Regions from separate parts of the Homo sapiens genome. Here region 1 is linked to region 2. The links come from fine-mapping of genetic effects on gene expression. A gene starts in region 2. The other region holds a variant in brackets. All regions are shown on one strand. Distances are between the middles of the regions. Region 1 overlaps CEP85 (centrosomal protein 85). Region 2 holds the start of CD52 (CD52 molecule).

Evidence for each region. PIP is the estimated chance that this variant, and not a neighbour inherited with it, causes the effect.
Region 1: its variant is the best candidate, but not a certain one, in a credible set for the expression of CD52 in whole blood (TOPMed, PIP 0.76).

Annotation. Positions count from the first base shown.
Region 1 is chr1:26,237,414-26,241,804 of GRCh38, forward strand. It overlaps CEP85 (centrosomal protein 85), which reads left to right. Exons shown (of 14, transcript NM_001319944.2): 2 at 2,349-2,425. The coding sequence starts at 2,371. Among named protein-coding and RNA genes, the nearest start is that of CEP85, 5.4 kb to the left of the region's middle. The variant G/A (reference allele first, on the strand shown) is at 2,283.
Region 2 is chr1:26,315,235-26,319,625 of GRCh38, forward strand. CD52 (CD52 molecule) reads left to right here and starts at 2,724. Exons shown (of 2, transcript NM_001803.3): 1 at 2,724-2,837. The coding sequence starts at 2,784. It also overlaps a transcript of UBXN11 not described here. RefSeq lists a silencer at 2,514-2,706 and enhancers at 2,781-2,850, 2,981-3,130, 3,504-4,391, 3,631-3,730.

The sequences.
Region 1 (4,391 bases), 78 kb before region 2:
CTATGGATTTGCCTATTCTGACATTTCATATAAATAGGATCAAGCCTTTTGTTTGGCTTCTTTGACTTTGCATGTCTTCAGTGTTCATCCATGTTGTCACATGTATCAGTACTTCCTTTTATTGCTGAATAATACTCTGTTTTTTGGATATACCACATTTTATGTATCCATTCATTAGCTCATGGACGTTTGTGTTGTTTCCACTTTTTGGCTATTGTAAATAATGCTGCTACGAACATTCTTATTGAAGCTTTTGTGTAAACCTGTGTTTTCATTTCTCTTGGGTGTATACTTCAGTGTGGAATTGCTGAGTCATAGGGTAACTCGGAGTTCTCCTTCTGTCACCGTATTTTCAACTTGTCTGAATTTAGAAACACCTTAGAATCCAGTGCGCCTACCATTTTGTTATCCTTTAAAGAAAGGAGTGAAGAAAAGGATTTTGATATTGACAAGAAAGGAAATCACTAGTAAGGAGGTAATCTAATCATTCTATGTCATCATTTAACTCACTGAATCATACTTGCCATAAACTAAAGCTTTTATTACTGAACAAAGCTTCCCTCACCCAGTATGTGAAGAACTGGAATTGTGGAGGATGATACCCTTTCTATTGTAGATGCAGTGAATTAATAAGGGTTTGGGTTGTTATGTACTTTAGTGACCTCTATAGTATTCTCTTAGTAACAAGAGAATACTATAGAGGTCACTAAAGTACATTAGAGAAATAGTACCATATAGTCTTTTTTCTCCAGAGTGATAGAATTATGTTCTGTGAATTGTCCCAAACTCTTTTTTTTTTTTTTTTGAGACGGAGTCTTGCTCTGTCGCCCAGGCTGGAGTGCAATGGCGCGATCTTGGCTCACTGCAGCCTCCGCCTCCATGGTCCAAGCGATTCTCCTGCCTCAGCCTCCCAAGTAGCTGGGATTACAGGCGCCTGCCACCATGCCTGGCTAATTTTTGTATTTTTAGTAGAGACGGGGTTTCACCATGTTGGCTGGTCTCGAACTCCTGACCTCAGGTGATCCGCCTGCCTCGGCCTCCCAAAGTGCTGGGATTACAGGCGTGAGCCACTGAGCCCGGCCGAATTGTCCCAAACTCTTTTGGGGCTTTTATAAATTTAGAGTTTCTGAGTTGATACTCCTTGATCTTCCATGGGCTGTACAGTGCTACTTTTGTTGATGTAAATTGCCAAGTAATAACAGCACTTAGTATGTGTCAGGAACTGTTGTAAGTTAATTATAAGTGAATTAACATGAATTAGGTTGTGTTGTTATCCTCATTTTTATATGAAGAAAATGAGGAACAGAGATACTAAGAAATTTGCCCAAGGTTACACAGCTAATAAATTGATAACTTAATGTTTAGTGGGTTCAAGTGTATTTGTTTAGACTTCAAATCCACTTCTGCTGAATTCTCAGCACCTACCCCTAGTGTACTGTAAATATAAATATTTTAAGGAGTGAGAACATGGGACGAGAACTTCACGTTCCTAGCTCAGGATTGGAGTTCTACTTATGAGCAAGAATTCTTTCCCATCTTTTTACATCGTATGACTGACTTTAATTACTGGAAGAATTGAGGAATTTGTTTTGTGTTAATCATAATTGATGCTGTAATACTTCACTGTTGGTTTAGTTCTTTAGTTCTTTATCCACCTCGTCCTGTCATCAGGTCCCCATGGCTAAGAAGATTCATGGTAAAGTTTGTTAATTAAAAGTAATATTTTTAAATTTTATAAAAATCAGAAGGGTTCTAGGACCGTATGGAATCTGTATTGGTAATCTCTGGTTCTAGGTTTTCTATACTGGATTTGGGAAGAGAAGTAGAGTGGAGTATTGGGATTTACTTTGTCTTAAAAATATCCTTAGAAGTAAAACATGTAAAAACATATTTACTCCTAAATATCCTTAGGAATATAACATTTAGAATACTGGAATATTCTTTTTTATTTTTTTTGAGATGGAGTCTTGCTCAGTTGCCCAGGCTGGAGTGCAGTGGTGTGATCTTGGCTCACTGAAACCTCTGCCTCCCGGGTTCAAGCAATCCTTGTGCCTCAGCCTCCCAAGTAGCTGGGACTACAGATGTGTGCCACCATGCCCGGCCAATTTTTGTGTTTTTAGTAGAAATGGGGTTTCCCCATGTTGGTCAGGCTGGTCTCGAACTCCTGACCTCAGTTGATCTGCCCGCCTTGGCCTCCCAAAGTGCTGGGATTACAGGTGTGAGCCACTGTGCCTGGCCAAATACTTGAATATTCTATATGGTTTTGACAGTTTCAGTTGAAT[G/A]GGAACTGAGTTGCGGGGAATTAAAGATACTTCAGAGAACTGACTGGTTATTCCTTCATTCTACAGTTGGCTTAAATAACTGTGATTGATGGCCATGCAGGAGAAATATCCAACTGAGGGGATCTCTCACGTCACTTCACCGAGTGAGTAGTCAGAAGTTTTCTGGGTTAAATTCTGACCTTTGTTCTGTTTTTTCATATTCCTTAAGGTAAATATTGAACAAACAAGCATTCACTGAAATGCTGGTGCTAAAAGAATAAAAATAACATGGGGCTTCATTGAATATAAAAACAGGTCTCTGAGGGAACAAGTATTTATCTCTTGTGCTATGTGGCTTTCAACAGGACCACGTGGTTGGGAGAGGACGACATATAAAGGATTGGAACAGAATGACTTTGGAACATAGTTCCATTTGAAATCAGAAAAACACAGCATAAATTACTGTGTTCTATGTTGTCTTTGTCCTCTGGGTGGGTCAGTCATCTGCTAGCCCACAAAAATAGGAATTCTGCTTGGATGCCAACAGATTCCGTTGCATTGTTACTAGAAACTCAGGAATTTATCTTCAGAATGGATTAACAAGATTTTGAAACTTCAGTAGATATATTAAATATATACAGTCCTTAAGTGTCCATGGCGGACTGGTTCCAAGACCTCCTGCAGATAGCAAAATCCACAGATACTCAAGTCCCTGATATAAAATGGTGTGGTATTTGCATATAACCTGTGTATATCCTAATGTTTACCTTAAATCGTCTCTAGATTACTTGTAATACCCAATGCAATGTAAATGCTATGTAAATAGTTATACTGTATTGTTTGGGGAATAAGAAGAAAAACAAGTCTTATGCACATTCAGTAAGATACCATTAAAAAAAAAAATTGGTTGAATTCACAAACGTAGAAACCACGGATATGGCCAGGCGCTGTGGCTCATGCCTGTAATCCCAGCACTTTGGGAGCCCAAGGCGGGTGGATCACCTGAGGTCAGGAGTTTGAGACCAGCCTGGCCAACATGGTAAAACTCCATGTCTACTAAAAATACAAAAATTAGCCGGGTGCAGTGGCATGTGCCTATAATAATCCCAGCTACTTGGGAGGCTGAGGCAGGAGAATCACTTGAACACGGGAAGCAGAGGTTGAGGTGAGCTGAGATGACGCCACTGCACTCCAGCCTGGGCAACAGAGTGAGACTGTGTCTCAAAAAAAAAAAGGGGAAAAAAAAGAAACCATGGATATGGAGAGCTGACTGTATATTAAACACATAAATATATGTATGCACTGTGCAGGCATATTAAGTAGATAATATATATTTCAAATAAGTAATATTTTAGAAAAATGACTTGTTGAATTCTGGGGTATTGGTAAAGAAGAGGGCACGTTTAATTCAACTCAGGGTATGTTTTATTTAACTTTAAAATCTCACAGTGCCTTACTCAGCGTAGATATTTGGTAAATGTTTGGTGTATTCTCTTAGGCATGCTGCCTTGCATAGAGTAGGCACCATTATAAGCTTTGGTTGAATCAATTCAAGATTCATTCAGCAGAATTTTTTTTTTTTTTTTGAAATGGAGTCTCGCTCTGTCACCCAGGCTAGAGTGCAGTGGCGTGATCTCGGCTCACTACAAGCTCCGCTTCCCGGGTTCATGCCATTCTCCTGCCTCAGCCTCCCAAGTAGCTGGGACTACAGGTGCCCGCCACCATGCCCAGCTAATTTTTTTGCATTTTTTAATAGAGACGGGGTTTCACCATGTTAGCCAGGATGGTCTCAATCTCCTGACCTTGTGATCTGCCCGCCTGGGCCTCGCAAAGTGCTGGGATTACAGGCGTGAGCCACTGCACCCGGCCTCAGGAAATATTTTTTAAACATCTGCTATGTGCTGCACATTCTCTTAGGTTTGTACAGTTTCTATGACAATTATGTATATAATGCAAGTTTTTGGAACAATGCCTTTCCTATGGCTTTTTTCTCTCTTCAATAGTATCTCATTCAGATTAATAATGGTCTTAATAATTGATAAGGATGCTACTGATAGGACATGCACTATAACACAAAAAATTTCAGCTTTTCTTTTTTTTTTTTGGAGACGGAGTCTTGTTCTGTGGCCC
Region 2 (4,391 bases):
TCTGGCATTTAGTATCCTCGCATGCATCTCCAGCATGGGAAACTATAACACGGCTGGCCCCAGGCTCGTCCTGTCTGGCTGCCTCTTTGTAAGAGGGGAGAAGATTGCACAGTGTGATGGAGCTCATTTTCAGCAGAGTAATCTCAGACTTCAACACGGGTATCCTGTCTTCTGGGCTGGTGCCCTTCTGGCACAGGACACCTCCCTGACTCTCATGAACCCCAGAATCACTCACCCCCACAGGCACACCAAAGACAGCTGAGAACTTGAGTCAAGGGTGAGGAGAGACCTCTGGGTGAAAGGGCAGGGATGGGGAAAGAGGGTGATGGATGGCTGGGGACTCCTCCCTCTTCTCTCCCTCCCCGCCCCTCCCTCTCCACTTCCTGGCTTTCTCTCATCAGCTTTGACTCTCAGTTCTTCTTTTCTTCTCTTCTCTTTTTTTGAAATGGAGTTTTTCTCTTGTCGCTCAGGCTGGAGTGCAATGGCACGATCTCGGCTCACTGCAACCTCCTTCTCCCGGGTTCAAGTGATTCTCCTGCCTCAGCCTCCCGAGTAGCTGGGATTACAGGCATGTGCCAGCACACCTGGCTAATTTCTGTATTTTCAGTAGAGACAGGGTTTCACCATGTTGGCCAGGCTGGTCTAGAACTCCTGACCTCAGGTGATCCACCCACCTCGGCCTCCCAAAATGCTGGGATTACAGGCGTGAGCCACTGTTTCCTGGCCTTTTTTTTTTTTTTTTTGAGACAGGGTCTTGCTCTGTCACCCTGGCTGGAGTGCAGTGCCACAATCATGGCTCATTGCAGCCTGGGCCTCCCAGGTGCAAGCAATCCTCCTGCGTCAGCCCCCAAGTAGCTGAGACTATAGGTTTGTGCCACTATGCCCGGCTAATTTTTTTTTTTTTTTTTTTTTTTTTTGAGAGATGGGGCCTTCCTATGTTGCCCGGGTGGTCTCAAACTCCTGTGCTCAAGTTATCTGCCCGCCTCAGCCTCCCAAACTGCTAGGATTACAGGCGTAGCCCCTATGCCCAGCCTCTGTTTTTTTCTTTGGACTCAGCCTCAGCCAGATCTCCCCTGGGCTTGCAACACAAGGCCCAAAACAATAGAAGAGAAGTGAGGGGAGTTTTCCCTTTACTACCTAGCATGTAAATGAGGCCTAAAGTAGACTAAGGAAGGGAGAGTGTGAAGGGAGAGTGGGCCAGAGCTGGGGTTGTGGTGACCAACTCCTGGGGCCTGGGGGGAGTTTGTGTAGGGGAGGGGGAGGGAGTGGCAGGGAATCAAGACTTAATGGATGAATTCTAGGGCAGCCCCAGAGGTTACATACATGGCTGTGGCTTCAGACAGACCTGGATTCAAGGTCAAATGAGACTGGCTCCACCATTTACGACCTTAGCAAGTCACTTAACATCTAAGCCTCAGTTTTTTCACCAGTCAAATGGGGATAAACATAACACCTGCTGCAGGGCACCACAGAGGGTATCAAGTGAGGGAATGCATAAAGCATGGAGCACTATCCAGGCAGCTGTGGGATTCCTCTCATCCCCCCACCCCTCCCTGGGCCCTCACAGCCACTCTCTCACCCCAGTCCCCTTCCACTGTAGCTTAGTCACCCACTTGTCCCTTCCCTCGCTCCCCTCCCATTCATCCTCAGCTAATACAAACAACCCATCTGCTTGCTACTTTCTCTACCAAAATCACAAAATTCTAGGTCTTGGCTGGGCGCGGTGGCTCATGCCTGTAATCCCAGCACTTTGGGAGGCCGAGGCAGGCGGATCACTTGAGATCAGGCATTCGAGACTAGCCTAGCCAACATGGTGAAACCCAGTCTCCGCTAAAAAAAAAAAAAAAATACAAAAAATTAGCCAGGCATGGTGGCACACACCTGTAGTCCCAGCTATGCGGGAGGCCAAGGCAGGATAATTGCTTGAACCCAGGAGGTGGAGGTTGCAGTAAGCCGAGATCATGCCAGTGCACAGAGCAAAACTCTGTTTAAAAAAAAAAACAAAAAAACCAACAACAACAAAACAAAACACTAGGTTTTAACAAACTTCAGAAATAATCTATTTCAGTCTTCCCAGTTCCTTGAAATGAGGAACTGAGGCCTAGAGAGGGAAAGCCCAACTGAAACCAGGCTTCCCGATTCCTCACCTCCAGCACCTTCACAGAAATCCACCAACCCTTCCACAATCTAAACATTTCCCAAGCTTTCATTCAGAACCTGCAGCCCATCTACAACCTTCCCTTGAAACATAAATCTATCCCAGCCCTTCTCCTTCAGCTCCTATACCCTGCCCCAATCTTCTTTAAACAACAAACTCATTTACGGAATATCTGCTATGTTCTGGCTCTTTTTAAATTGGTTATTATTACATGTAATCCGGCAGTTCTTTTGTTAAAGGGTCAGAGAGGTAGAGTTTCTGGCCCAGGGTCTCAGAGCTGGTCAGTGATTAAACCAGGATTCAGCCTGCAGGATGCATGATTCCAGGCCTTGGGCCCTACTTACTCCCACCGTTGCCTCTGGATTGACCTCTCTCCTATCTTGTACGATCTAGCCTGCTCCCCCAGCCAGGGCCTTAGAACCTAGAGCCTGGTATTATCCACCCCCAGATCTGCAGAAAGGAAGCCACACCCCTCCTCCACCTTGTAAGCCCTCCTTCCTCTCCCTACCTCACCCCGCCTCCTCTGCCTCCTGGTTCAAAAGCAGCTAAACCAAAAGAAGCCTCCAGACAGCCCTGAGATCACCTAAAAAGCTGCTACCAAGACAGCCACGAAGATCCTACCAAAATGAAGCGCTTCCTCTTCCTCCTACTCACCATCAGCCTCCTGGTTATGGTACAGGTAAGAGCAACGCCTGGCACCACTGCCAGGACTCCCCAAAGTTGCTTGGCATGGAGGGAGGGCATACAGGATGTGAGCTCCCAGAGACCCAGCCTTCTCTCCTGAGAGCACAGCAGATGGACTCCAACAGGAAAACTGGGGACACAGCGGGCCTGGCCGCCCAGCCTTCCAGCTCTTCTGGCTGGGGCTGCACTGCTTGCGGGCTGCCCTGAGAGAAACCTGTATCCACAGCTGGGGAGCACTTACAGGGTGCTAGGCGCGTTGGGGCACCCAAGGGGTGTTGTGGAATAATAGAGAACTAAGAGACTTGGGAAGACAACCCTGAGTGAGGAAGGCATCGGCCCACAGGGAGTCTGGGGAGATGGTCCTTTGGGGAGAGGCCAGGAGATGTCCAAGTGGAGCCTGCTGTGGTTATGGAGGTGACAGGGGACACTCTAACCCCCACTCCCCTGCCAGAGAGAAGCCTGGATGTTCAGGAATGCAAAGAAGACAGGACTCTCCCATTTCAGAAACAACTGGAGTCTCAAAAGCGACTGCTATTCCAGGAGGCAGCTTTGGTAGCATCCCAGGTGCCCAGAGGGGAGTCAGTACAGCAGACCGGAGCCATCAAGTTCTTGATCAAGAACAGCTTGATCACCATCAAAACCAGCTTAATCTCCATCAAGAACAGTTCTAGTTGCAGCTCCATCAAGCATTAAGGACAGCTCGATCACCATCTGGCCACTTCCCCACCCCACATCCAGCCACCCACGCTTTGCCAAGTGCTTTCTCACTCAGCCCTGGCTCATGTGACCTTCACAACTGTGATGAACTTCTCCCCACTCAGAAGATGAAACTGAGGCTCAGGGAAGCTAAGCCCTTTGCCAGGCTAGGAAGGTCAAGGGCCAGGGCTCCCCTGTCTCCCTCTATGCCAGAAGGGCTGGTCGCTGGGGAAAGGTGAAAAGAAAGGTTCTGTGACCGGGCACGGTGGCTCACGCCTATAATCCCAGCACTTTGGGAGGCCGAGGCAGGCGGATCACCTGAGGTCAGGAGTTCAAGACCAGCCTGGCCAACATGACAAAATCCCGTCTCTACTAAAAATACAAAAATTAGCTGGGCGAGCCGGGCGCGCTGGCTCGCGTCTGTAATCCCAGCACTTTGGGAGGCTGAGGCGGGTGGATCATGAGGTCAGGAGATCGAGACCATCCTGGCTAACACATTGAAACCTCGTCTCTACCATAAATACAAAAAGAAATTAGCCGGGCGTGGCGTGGTGGCGGGCGCCTGTAGTCCCAGCTACTCGGGAGGCTGAGGCAGGAGAATGGCGTGAACCTGGGGGTGAAGCTTGCAGTGAGCCGAGATCACGCCACTGCACTCCAGCCTGGGCGGGCGACAGAGCAAGACTCTGTCTCGGAAAAAAAAAAAAAATTAGCTGGGCGTGATAGCGGCTGCCTATAATCCCAGCTACTCGGGAGGTTGAGGGGTGGAGGTTGCAGTGACCCGAGATCATGCCACTTCACTCCAGCCTGGGCAAAAGAGCGAAACTCTATCTCAAAAAAACAGAAAGTTTCTGTG